Homo sapiens: one gene and its partner. The protein of the gene in region 2 interacts with the protein of the main gene of each other region in a pairwise test. Each region holds a gene or a part of one and is shown on either strand. Other genes may lie near its edges. The genes, in order: TRPV2 and NTM.

Evidence for each region.
Region 1: the proteins of NTM (region 2) and TRPV2 interact in a protein complementation assay, tested with the Homo sapiens proteins (one study listed by IntAct).

What each region holds. Positions count from the first base shown.
Region 1 is NC_000017.11:16,425,308-16,432,592, forward strand, and holds part of TRPV2 (transient receptor potential cation channel subfamily V member 2), read left to right. Parts: intron 1-791; coding exon 792-962; intron 963-1,414; coding exon 1,415-1,570; coding exon of another isoform or gene 1,571-1,582; exon of another isoform or gene 1,583-1,583; intron 1,584-2,141; coding exon 2,142-2,240; intron 2,241-3,009; coding exon 3,010-3,080; intron 3,081-3,509; coding exon 3,510-3,675; intron 3,676-3,892; coding exon of another isoform or gene 3,893-3,952; exon of another isoform or gene 3,953-5,012; intron 5,013-6,476; coding exon 6,477-6,543; intron 6,544-6,658; coding exon 6,659-6,993; intron 6,994-7,285. UniProt on the Homo sapiens protein: Calcium-permeable, non-selective cation channel with an outward rectification. Seems to be regulated, at least in part, by IGF1, PDGF and neuropeptide head activator. May transduce physical stimuli in mast cells.
Region 2 is NC_000011.10:132,332,606-132,337,598, reverse strand, and holds the end of NTM (neurotrimin isoform 9 precursor), read right to left. Parts: exon of another isoform or gene 4,836-4,993; intron 2,554-4,835; coding exon 2,453-2,553; 3' UTR 777-2,452; downstream 1-776.

The DNA of each region.
Region 1 (7,285 bases), on a different chromosome or scaffold from region 2:
GCCGAAACGCCCAGCCTGCAGCTGCATTTTTAATGCCTAGAGCTTTGACTAGCTGGAAGTTATTCTGGTAGGAAGAGTAAACATGAGGCAGCCCCCACTTTGTTCCAGATAGCTTACCAATGGCCTGTTCCAAATAGCTTTTGCCAATAGCTCACCAGGGCTGGCCTCATGGGCTTACAGTGGAGATTTTTGAAAGATTAAGGAAACGATAAACATAAATAGAAGTTTTAACCCTTTTTCGCTGCCCTCCCAAGTTTTTTGGAGTGCTCCCTGGGGTGTGTGAACCTCACTTTCTTGTCTAGAGGCACTGCTGTGTGGCCTATGAAAGCAGTGTCCTGATCTGTTCCTCCTTTCCCATTCCTCACGCGTGAAACCAGACTGCTTCCTAACCTGTTTGGATTAGGGACCACTTTCTAGTCTGTTGAAAATTCTAGATTCTGACCGCGAAAGTGCACACACAGATACAGCTAGTAGACTCTGATCTCAGGGGCCTCAAGGACCCCAGGGCTAGGGATCAATCTGCCATTTGAGGAGTTCAAGGAAGGCCACAGGGCAGGGGAGGGGAAGGAAGAGCCAGGCTGGCTGGCAGGCTGGGGCAGATGTGGCTGGGTGCGTGTGTGTGTTTAAGAGTTTAGACAAACAAGGACCTGCGTGTATGGGGGTACGTGCACGTGTCAGCTGCAGCTCTGCAGACCGTGGGCAGCTGCTGAGTCCTGGGTGTTTCCCAGCCTTGGCCCAGGATCAGTGCCAGGAAGGGACCATGAATGCAAGCTCATATGGCCACCCTGCAGATTTTCAGGCACATCCTGCAGCGGGAGTTTTCAGGACTGAGCCACCTTTCCCGAAAGTTCACCGAGTGGTGCTATGGGCCTGTCCGGGTGTCGCTGTATGACCTGGCTTCTGTGGACAGCTGTGAGGAGAACTCAGTGCTGGAGATCATTGCCTTTCATTGCAAGAGCCCGGTGAGCCCACAGGAGCATGGGTGCACGCAGAGGACCCAGCAGAGTTTCCAGCAAGGTCCACAAATTGGGGCTGCCTGCTGGACCATATCTGCCCCATTCCTGTGCCAGTGGGGGTGTGGCTGCATGTCCCAGCAGGCACGACCCTGACCATGGCCACCGGGCCCATACTCAATCCATACTCTAGTCCCATCCAAGACGGGGATCATGCCAAGGGCCTCGTGGCAACCATCCGGGTCCTCTCTGTTAACCAGCATCTCATTTGGAGGGCAAGCCCCTTAGTCACACTGTAGCTGGGAGGGTTGGCGTGAGGTCCTTTGGGGCTCCTGGGGTGTGGAAGCCTGCTCCCTGTCCTCTCTCCTCATTTCCTGGGCCCTTGCTTTGATCTTGACATGGAGTGGGCAGCCTATTTGCACTTGTTGAGTGTACCCATGGCTCTCCCCTCCCCACCCCAGCACCGACACCGAATGGTCGTTTTGGAGCCCCTGAACAAACTGCTGCAGGCGAAATGGGATCTGCTCATCCCCAAGTTCTTCTTAAACTTCCTGTGTAATCTGATCTACATGTTCATCTTCACCGCTGTTGCCTACCATCAGCCTACCCTGAAGAAGGCAAGGGCGTGAGGTTTGGGGGGGCACATCTTGGGGGAGGCCTGCTTGAAACAACCCTGGGGGAAGATGGGGCAGTAATAGTGCTGAGGCATGGGCTGCTGGAGTGACATTCCCAAGCTTATGGGAGCCAGCACTGCAGTACTAACGGTGATACAGTGAAGATTTGCTGAGTGCTCACTGTATGTGAAAAAGGATTCTAGGTGATGGACATGTGTTGACTAATTAATGTGCCCCAAAACCCTTGAGATGGTGAATTATAATCACCCCCAGTTTATAGTAGAGGGAAGGGAGGCACAGAGAGGTTAAGTAACTTGCCCAGGGTCACACAGAATGGAAGTGGTGTGGAGAGGGAATCTGAATCCAGGGAGTCTGGCTTCAGACCCTACACTGAAATGCTACACAATGTGCCTCTCAGGATCCAGGGGTCCTTCCCTGGAGCCCATGTTCCCATGCCGTTCTGAGGAGCCTCTCCACAGCTCAGGCTCAGAGTAGGCCCTCAGCTTCAGCTCTGAAGGGTGAGCTGTTCGAGAGAGGACCCAAGGCCCTAGGTCTCATCTGAGTGTGTCTTCAGCAGGCCGCCCCTCACCTGAAAGCGGAGGTTGGAAACTCCATGCTGCTGACGGGCCACATCCTTATCCTGCTAGGGGGGATCTACCTCCTCGTGGGCCAGGTGAGTGCCCCTCCCCTTCTCCTACCAAGAAGCAAACCTAGAATTCTGCTTCAGGGGGCTTAGAGAAAGTTAGCTGCATCCCCTCACTGACAATACCCAGTCCCACCCAGAGCAACCAGCCTCACTGAAGCTGAGGGCCAGAGGTTCTGGCCTTGCCTTCTGAGTCCCCAGGAACCCCTCTGCTGTGCTTTTGGGGTTCCTTGGGGTAGCAGATAGCTTCTCTGATTCCTTGGCAGTACAGACTCTGCTCCCCCAGGAATGGAGCTGGAAGCGCCTGCCCCTAGCCAGGCCCCTCGGCTGGGAAGCTCCCCTCTTGGGGAGCACAGAGACCAGAGGTAGGTGGGGTTCAGGCTATTTCCCCCAGTAGGGCCTCTTCAGTGGGAAATGCTGTAAGCCTGCAGGACACAGGCTGGACACCAAGACATTGGGACCTCCGCAGAGTGGGCAGAACTTGGGCACCAAACGCAGGTTGGCTGGGGTATGGGTGCTCCCTGTGAGGCCAGGGAGAAGGGAAGGGAAAGGTGCTCTTCCCCTTCCTGCATGCAGTGCACAGGCTCTTCACCTGCACCCCCCGGCCTTGCCTAGGTGGCTGCTCTTTCTGGAAAGAAAGTCCCAAGCTATCTCAGCTATCAGAAGTATTCATGAGTCCCCCAAAACCAAAGCTGCTGACTTAGCTCTAGCCTGGGTGGCAGGCTCCCACTCAGCCAGGCCAGCAGGGGGCATGCGGGAGAGCAGGTTTCACAGCCCTCTGTCCTCCCTTCCTCCGCAGCTGTGGTACTTCTGGCGGCGCCACGTGTTCATCTGGATCTCGTTCATAGACAGCTACTTTGAAATCCTCTTGTACGTGGGTTCTCACTCCTCCTTCTCTCAACTGTCTCTGAGGTCTGGAAGGGGCAGTTGTGGCAGAAGGCACCAGGTTGGCTTTAGAGGCGAGGACACGGGGCCCAGGAAGTCGGGATCTGTGTACAGGCCAGTCCCAGGAGTCTGGGCTGCCGTCCAGCCTGGGGCCCCTTGTGCTCCCATCACTGTAGATGGTGATAGTGACATTTACTAGGCCTCGGCACATACCTGTTTCACTTAGTCCTTGAAAACACTCTATGAGTCAGGCATCATTATTATTATGCCCATTTTACAGTGGGAGGGAACTGAGGCCCACAGAGGTTAAATGTCTTGCCTAAGATGGAGGTCAGGACCTTGGTCAGCATAGGCCAGTGGGGGCTCAGGGAGCCAAGTGGCCCGCAAGCCCACCTGGATTCTGCTCCCACACAGCCTGTTCCAGGCCCTGCTCACAGTGGTGTCCCAGGTGCTGTGTTTCCTGGCCATCGAGTGGTACCTGCCCCTGCTTGTGTCTGCGCTGGTGCTGGGCTGGCTGAACCTGCTTTACTATACACGTGGCTTCCAGCACACAGGCATCTACAGTGTCATGATCCAGAAGGTGAGAGAAGGGGGTGGCCCACCGGGACTCTTTTGGCCTCATCAGGCAAGAAGAGCCTTCCTCCACAGCTATCCTAGGCAGAGGAGGGCATGTGTACATCTGCCTGTGCGCCAGCACTCAGATGCTTGCTGGATGGAAGCTTAAGTACAGGCCTGCACATACCTCTCTCAGGGCTCTGCATGCACACGCAAACAAACGTACATATGTGTGTTTGCAGGTGTCCACACGGGAGCATGTGCATCCTTCCACAAGCAAGGAGCAAAGAATATGTGCATAAGCTCATCTGCATGTCTGTGTCCTGCGATGTGTGGGCGCGGGCATGTAACTGCATTCATTTATGTATTCAGCGCATGTTTAGGGAGTGCCTACTGTGGGCCGGGCCCTGTTCTAGGTGTTGGGAATATAGCAGAGAACAGAACAAGTCCTTGCTCCCCTGAAGCTGATGTTCTGGTGGGAGGAAATGAAAACCTTAAGAAAACAACTGAGAACATTCCACACTGCTAAATTCTATGAAGGAAAAAAAAGCACAGGACAATGTGATGCAGAATGGCTGGGACCAAGTACCCTTTAGATGGGATGGTCTGGGAAGCCTCTCTAAAGAGGGGATGTTTAAGTTGAGACCTGAAAGAATGATTCAGCCACAGCAGGGTGAAGAGGAGATATTCTCAGCAGAGGGCACAGCAGTGGCTGCCACGAGCCAGAAGGAGCTTGGGGTGCTTGGGACAGGGTGAGGAGGCTAGGTGGCTGGGGAGATGGCAGGAGGGTGGAGGTGAGGAGGTTGGGAGGAAGGGAAGGGCCAGGGGCCCCTTCCACGGGGAGGGATTTGGAGGTCCCCAGAGGCTTTTTTTTTTTTAATTGTAGTAAAATACACCTAACATGGAACTTTTTTTTTTTTCTTTGAGATGGAGTCTCACTCTTGTTACCTAGGCTAGAGTGCAATGGCACCATCTCAGCTCACTGCAAACCCCTACTCCTGGGTTCAAGCGATTCTCCTGCCTCAGCCTCCCGTATGGCTGGGGTTGCAGGCACCCACCACCATGCCCGGCTAATTTTTGTATTTTTAGTAGAGACAGGTTTTCACCACGTTGGCCAGGCTGGTCTCAAACTCCTGACCTCAGGTGATCCGCCTGCCTTGGCCTCCCAAAGTGCTGGGATTACAGGCATGAGCTACTGCGCCTGGCCCATTTTAACCTTTTTTTTTTAAAGTATACAGCTAAGTGTCATTAAGTACATTCACACTGTTGTATAACCATCACCACCATCCAACTCCAGAACTTTCTTGTCATCCCAAACTGAAACTCAACACCCATTAAACAACTCCCCATTCCCTTCCCCCAGTCCCTGGAAGCCACCATTCTAATTTCTGTTTCTACGAATTTGATGACCATAGCTACATCGTAGAAGTGGAATCATACAGTATTTGTCCTTTAATGTCTGGCTTATTTTACTCAGTATAATGTCCTCAAGGATCAGCCATGTTGTAGCATGTGTCAGAAATGCCTTCCTTTTTTTTTTTTTTTTGAGATGGAGTCTTGCTCTGTTGCCCAGGCTGGAGTGCAGTGATGCAATCTTGGCTCACTGCAACCTCCGCCACCCAGGTTCAAGCGATTCTCCTGCCTCAGCCTCCCGAGTAGCTGGGACTACAGGCATGTGTCACCACATCCGGCAAATTTTTTTTATTTTTAGTAGAGACGGAGTTTTGCCACGTTGGCCAGGATGGTCTTGAACTCCTGACCTCAGGTGATCCACCCACCTTGGCTTCCCAAAGTGCTGGGATTGCAGGCTGAGCCATCACGCCCAGCCAATTCCTTCCTTTGTAAGGCTGAATAATATCCCATTGTGTAGATACACCACATTTTGTGCGTCCATTCATCTGTCGATCCAGTCACCTGTTGCTTCCACCTTTTGACCATTGTGAATAATGCTGCTACGAACAAGGGTGTAAAAGTATCTGTTAGAGTCCCTGCTTTCAATTCTTTTGGGCATATACATACCCAGAAGTGGAATTGCTGGGTCATACAGTAGTTCTATATTTTATTTTGTGACCCTGGAAGGTTTTTTTTTTTTGTTTTTTGTTTTTTGTTTTTTGAGATGGGACTCATTCAGTCACCCAGGCTGGAGTGCGGTGACACGATCATAGCTCATTGCCGCCTTGACATTCTGGGCTCAAGCAATCCTCCTGTCTCAGCCTCCTGAGTAGCTGGCACTGTAGGCTTGTGCCACCATGCCCAGCTACTGGAAAGTTTTAAGCAGGAAAACAATGTGATCTGAGACATATATATATATATATATATATATATATATACATATTTTTTTTTTTTTTTTTTTTGAGACGAAGTCTCACTCTGTAGCCCAGGCTGGAGTGCAGTGGTGTGATCTCGGCTCACCACAACCTCTGCCTCCTGGGTTCAAGTGATTCTCCTGCCTCAGCCTCCTGAGTAGCTGGGATTACAAGCACAGGCACACCACTGCACCTGGCTAATTTTTTGTATTTTTAGTAGAAACGCGGTTTCACCATGTTGGCCAGGCTGGTCTTGAACTCCCAACCTCAGGTAATCTGCCCGCCTCAGCCTCCCAAAGTGCTAGGATTATAGGCATGAGCCACCGCACCCAGCCAGATCTGAGATATATTTTTAAAAGACTCCTCTGCTCGGTGTGGCTCCACAGGCCCACATATGCATATGTATGTGTGCGTATGTGCAGTGTACACGGGAACCATGCTGCTGTGGGTGAGGCAGGGTTCTGGGGTCGTGACTGGTGGCCCAGCTACCCACCCTGGCCCCTGGGCACATGTGTTCCAGGTCATCCTGCGGGACCTGCTGCGCTTCCTTCTGATCTACTTAGTCTTCCTTTTCGGCTTCGCTGTAGGTAAAGGCTCCCTCCGGCCCCCTCCCCCTTCCCCACGTTCCTTGTCCACCCTGTACACTCCCAAGGCTGCCCACCGGTCTCCTGGGCTAAGGACCCCTCTCCCTTCATCCCATAGCCCTGGTGAGCCTGAGCCAGGAGGCTTGGCGCCCCGAAGCTCCTACAGGCCCCAATGCCACAGAGTCAGTGCAGCCCATGGAGGGACAGGAGGACGAGGGCAACGGGGCCCAGTACAGGGGTATCCTGGAAGCCTCCTTGGAGCTCTTCAAATTCACCATCGGCATGGGCGAGCTGGCCTTCCAGGAGCAGCTGCACTTCCGCGGCATGGTGCTGCTGCTGCTGCTGGCCTACGTGCTGCTCACCTACATCCTGCTGCTCAACATGCTCATCGCCCTCATGAGCGAGACCGTCAACAGTGTCGCCACTGACAGCTGGAGCATCTGGAAGCTGCAGGTGCCACCAGAGAGGCTCCCTGCCCCCACCCCACCCCACACTCAGGCGGTGGGGAGTGCTCCGGACCCTGCGGAGCTGGGCCTTCCCTAGCCAGGAGATGCCGGGTTGGGCAGCTCTACCTTGTCAGTCTTCCTCTTCCTTTTTTTTTTTTTTTTCTGGAGACAAGGTCTTGCTCTGTCACCCAGGCTGGAGTGCAGTGGCACGATCACAGCTCAATGCAGCCTCGGCCTCCTGAGCTCAAGTGATCCTCCTTCCTCAGCCTCCTGAGTAGCTGGGGTTACAGGCACCTGCC
Region 2 (4,993 bases):
ATTCCTGAGGCTTGGCCAGGTAGTTCCAGACCTTGCTGCTGCGAAAAACTTGGGGCATCTGGGACATGGGTGGGGCTAGGGGTGAAAGGGTAGAAGGACACAAAGAAAGGTGAAGAAGTCAATAGCTTTCTTCAGTCTTGCCGGAAGCAACTGGAAATGACACAGCTCCATCCCAGTCCTTCCTGGTTCCTCTCAGGTGAAGGTGACTTGGAAATGCAAGTGCCGTCATTCCTGAGTGTTTTGGCTCGGACCCATTTCTGTCTCTCAGTTCCTCTTATGTGGCTAGAGGTGAGGTTTGGAGGTTGGGTTTGGAGGACTGGTTGATGGGAGATTATTTAAAACTAAACACAATGTTTCAAGCTGGCTTTCTGTTTTGTTTTTTTGCGGGGAGATTTCTTTTGGCTCTCGGGGGTTTTCTTGTTTTCCGTGACAGTGACTTTCTGCTGCTTCCCAGAAATAATTGGGCCTAAAGTCTTCTCCCTGACTAGACTTGACCTTTGCCCACTTGTGTGGTAAGATGTTTGAGCACAAGCAGGACACTGGCAGCCCTGGCCAGGACCTCCCGAAGGCACTGAAAATGCAGTCCCTATCAGACGCACCCTCACCTTGCCTCTGTGCGGGGATGGAGGAGGTCCCACGTCCTTCCTGTTTGTCATCTCAGCACTTGCCACCACTCCATCCCAGGAGGGTTTAAGAGCCCATCCTCCCCCATTCTTCAAACCTGAGCCAGGCAGGCTGTGCCCCCGCCCCGCTGTAGAATGAGGTACCACACCAGGTGAAGAGGGACATGGAACACTTTTTAATGTCAAGTCAGAGACAACCCCACCCTCCCGGATCCCCCAATCCCCCTTTCCCTCATCACATCCAGGACCCCTCCCCGAGGACTCTCAGGTTCCCAGACTTTCAGGGGAGGGGAAAAAAAAAAAAGATTACCTAAAAATTGCATTTTCTTCTCTTTCATACACACTCACACAAAGGTGGGAAATAAAATAAACCAAGAGGATTAAACTCTCCAGTGGTCACAAAGGCATCAGAGATTCCCATAATGGGCTAAAGCAAGTGGGTACTGACGGTACTGCTTGTTCAGCTGCTTGCTGTCTGTTAACGCCACAGGGCAGAATGGAGAAAGCGGGGCCACCTGGGGTGGCCTAGCGCAGAGCCACACCTGGAAAGATGCTGCGCCCGGTATTAGTTGTTTTTTTTTTTTTTTATCCTTTCACTTTTTATAAATGTCTCTGACATGTAAATAACCCAAGAAAATAAAAAGGCAGGAGCTGATTACACAATTACCAGTAAACTCTATCATCTTTTAGAAGATCAACACACAGCTAACGCCATATACAGCATGCAGTAATGTCTGAGAAAGGACCCTGCGGAGAAATAAAATGGCTAGAACTCTAACAAAAAAAATATATGTATATATATACTGTATAATATATGTCATCAAAGGAAGCATAGCCAACAAACCCAAGATACAGTGCAGATCACCTTTCCATTTCTAAACAGTGTGTAGAGAGCATAGTATTGTCTGCAAGAGATGTCAGAATTGGGAGGAGTCCGTAGCGCTGGTGGAGATGTTGGTTAAATCGGATGCATTTTTTGGTGGATATGCCAAATCCTCACCAGGTGATTAGTGCCTGGTGTGTGGTCCACCAGTTGTAAACCTAGTTAAGAAGTATACTATTCATTTTTACTGTTTAACAAACATACTTCTCTTCACCCTTCTCAGTTGTATTTTTTTAGTTTTGTCTTGTTTTTGCAGTAAGTTCTAGACTCATATCAGAAAATATAATTAATGAAATTAATAATGAATCAGAATCCCTTGTTATCCATGATGTTCATGTAGTAAAATGATAAAAAAAAAAAAAAGTTTAACGGTATCTTTTGTGACTTGTTTGTGGGACCGTTGTTGCTGTCAGACGGTCTTATTTTGTTTCCTTTTTCTTTCTTGCTCTTTTTATTTCACGTTTCACAACACACGCCGTGGTGGCACAGTCTACCAAAGTGCCCGCAGCGCCACGCTTGGGCCGGAAGGTCTCATTCTGTTCGTCTCTATGGACTGATTGAATTTGGGATGGCCAGCTCCAGAATGTTCCACGTGGGGGCACTCTGTGGGCAGAGAGGCTGAGCCCTTGCCCACACTGGCACCAAAGAGGTTGCACGATGCAGCTTGCAGTGGGTCCAAGCCGGGTGTGCTGTGTTCTTCCCGTTTGGGAAAAGAAAACTCCATTGTACCTAAATATCTGCAAGGCAATTTTCAATTTCTTTTTTAAAACTTTTTTCCCCCCAAAGTATTCTTTGTTCCCCTCCCTCAAATTTCTGTCCCATGAGGCTGTGTTTCTTCTAATTTCATTTGTATATATCTGATTGGTTGCTGTCGGTGTTGCCATTGCTGTTGTGTTGGTGGTGGTGGTGGCGGCAGCCTTTCCCGGGTGGGGAAGTGGCACTCACATCAAAATTTGAGAAGCAGGTGCAAGACCAGAAGAGGCAGCAGCCAGACGCAGCCTGCCCTCCTCGACGTGCCGTTGCTCACCTCGCTGACGGCGCCTGGACCTGTGGAGAGAACACACTCGCCGTGAGTGGTCTGGGAGAAAATGGAAGGAAAGCCCGGTGGTTGCCTGGTCTGCTGTCATTTGGCCTTGCCCCTGGTGAGTCATCCCTCTAAGTGAAACACATGGTGTTCCAGCCCCAGCATTAGAAGTGAACGTTCTATGGCCCACATCCCCAAGACACACACACTAGATAACGGGAAGCCTTCCCCTGCAAGGAGAGAACATGAGGCTCAGGTTAAAGTGTCCTGGGCCTTCTTCCTTACTGTGTCATAACATGCAAAGGCCATGGCTCAGGCTCAAATTCAAGAAGAAGGTGGCAGATTCATTAATATCCTACACAGAGCTTTAATAAAGTCAGACTACTGTGCTGAGTGCCTCATCACCCATCCACTTCTGAGCACTGCCTGCCTGAAATACTCACCCACCCTCCAGCTGCTTGGCCTGTGGCTCAGAAAAGAACCTGTTGGACAAAACAATGTGTCTGCCTGCTGCTTCTGCTTCCTTGGGCACAGAGGCCATCCTGCCAATCACTCTATCTCAGGGCAGGGCACCTGGGTTCCACCTGGAGCACTTGACCTCTTCCCCATCTGGATGGGGTAAGAGCAGATGCAGCTCAAGGATCACATGCCTGCAAGGCCGAAGCCAGCCCACATGGATGGAGGTGAGTCAAACAAAGGAACAGGAAGCCTTCCTGTGCATGTGGATGTAACTGGAGATCAATGAGGACACTGGGATGCAGAACCTGCCCCAGTGTATGGAGATGGAGACAAACACAGGAGGCAGGAGAACTGCAAGGCAGTACAGTTCCCCAGCAGCTTCCCTATTGTTCTGAAACATACGTTTTCTGGCTACCTCGGCCCTTGTGGCCAAGAAACCCCATGACCAGTGGAGCTTTGATTTCTGTAGAGTACATAAGTTTGGATGCCCAGATGAATTAGCTACTCAAGGAACCAGGCCACCTCCTCAGACTGGACCTGCTCTGGCATACTCTGTTGCATTGAATTTAATAGAGGTATTTAAAGCTGGTGGCCTCACTAAGTCCATGTCTTCCTGGATTAGGGAACAAGGAACAAAGCCAGAACCTGCCTGCCTGACTTGGATGCTCAGCGTTGGATACATTTCTGGCTAAAACAAATCAAAATCAAAACAGGCTTCTCAATTCCATGTGGGATTATTCCATCAAGTCTAGAACTCCTGGCTAGGAGGCAGTGCCCATATGATTTTATGTCTTGGCCTTTTGGGATAAATCCCTAATTTGGGGGCGTGGCTAAATAGGTAGCCATGAGATTGAAATGCAATAGGTCATCAACCTCATGTTTCCCTGGTGTCTGATTCACAGTATCCCTAAGGCCGGAACTTCTCAGAGGTGCAGATCCCCATGCTGAGAAGCCCAGGGGATACTTATTCTCTCTACCCTGCATTAAGGAGAAAACACAAAACCAAAGGCATCTGTGCTAGGATACAGGTGACCAAGGAGCACTCCTGTAAAGCTCCTGCGGATTTAAATCTCAACCCAGAAATGCTTGTCATTTAGGATCGGTCACTAACTGGTTGTGTCTTCTAGAATCTAACTACTATGTGTCCACAGAAACCATCACCAGACGTTCCCCCTTTGTAGATGCTCACTCTGTCATCTACAGAGCACATTCTTTGGAATCAAAGGAGAGAAGCCTCCGCCGGATGCCTTCAAGGGTGAGAGACTATGTTTCTCTGCTCTGCGTAAGTCCTTCCCCTCTAGGCAACTCCAAGATTCTTCCAACCAAGGCCCTTGTCTGTGCCCGAGGCTGAGGACTCTGAGACGACAAGGGTGGTTCTGAGTCCATATGGCCCAGCAGGCCTTTATGGAAGCCAGGTCGAATGTTTTGCCTCAACACTGTGAGTGTTCACATTCATATGAAGATAGCTTCATATGCGTGAATCACACCGTACAATTCCATACGTGTCCTGCACACTGGAGTCCTTAACTCCCGGCAGGGGACACAGCTGTCAGCACACTGCTCTGCCTCTTTCATCCCTTGTGCTCTCCTGAACATCCACACACATCTTTGAAACCCATTTCCTGTTCAATTCCCGCACACTCCCACCTCCCGTCTCCCGCTCCCTCCCTGTGACTAAGAAGATGCCCTGGGTAAGAGATGGAAAACAAGTGCCGCTTCCCTGCACTGAGGTGTTCTCTCCTCTCTTCTGAACTCCCTCCTTGCAGCCTGACCTGCCAGTGGAAGCCTCCAGGGAGGAGAATGCCACAGCCAGGTGTTCAGCCCAGCAGGGGCCTGGCGTAGTTACCATGTAAGGGAATGCTGAAACCTTGTTTCCAGGCTGGGGACTCTGCAGCTCGGGAGACGACTGAGAGCGGGCAAACACCCCCTGTGGCAGATCTCAATGGCCCTGTGGCTATGCCAGGCGCTCTCCCTGGGTGCCTGTGTTTGGTCTCCTTGCTACGC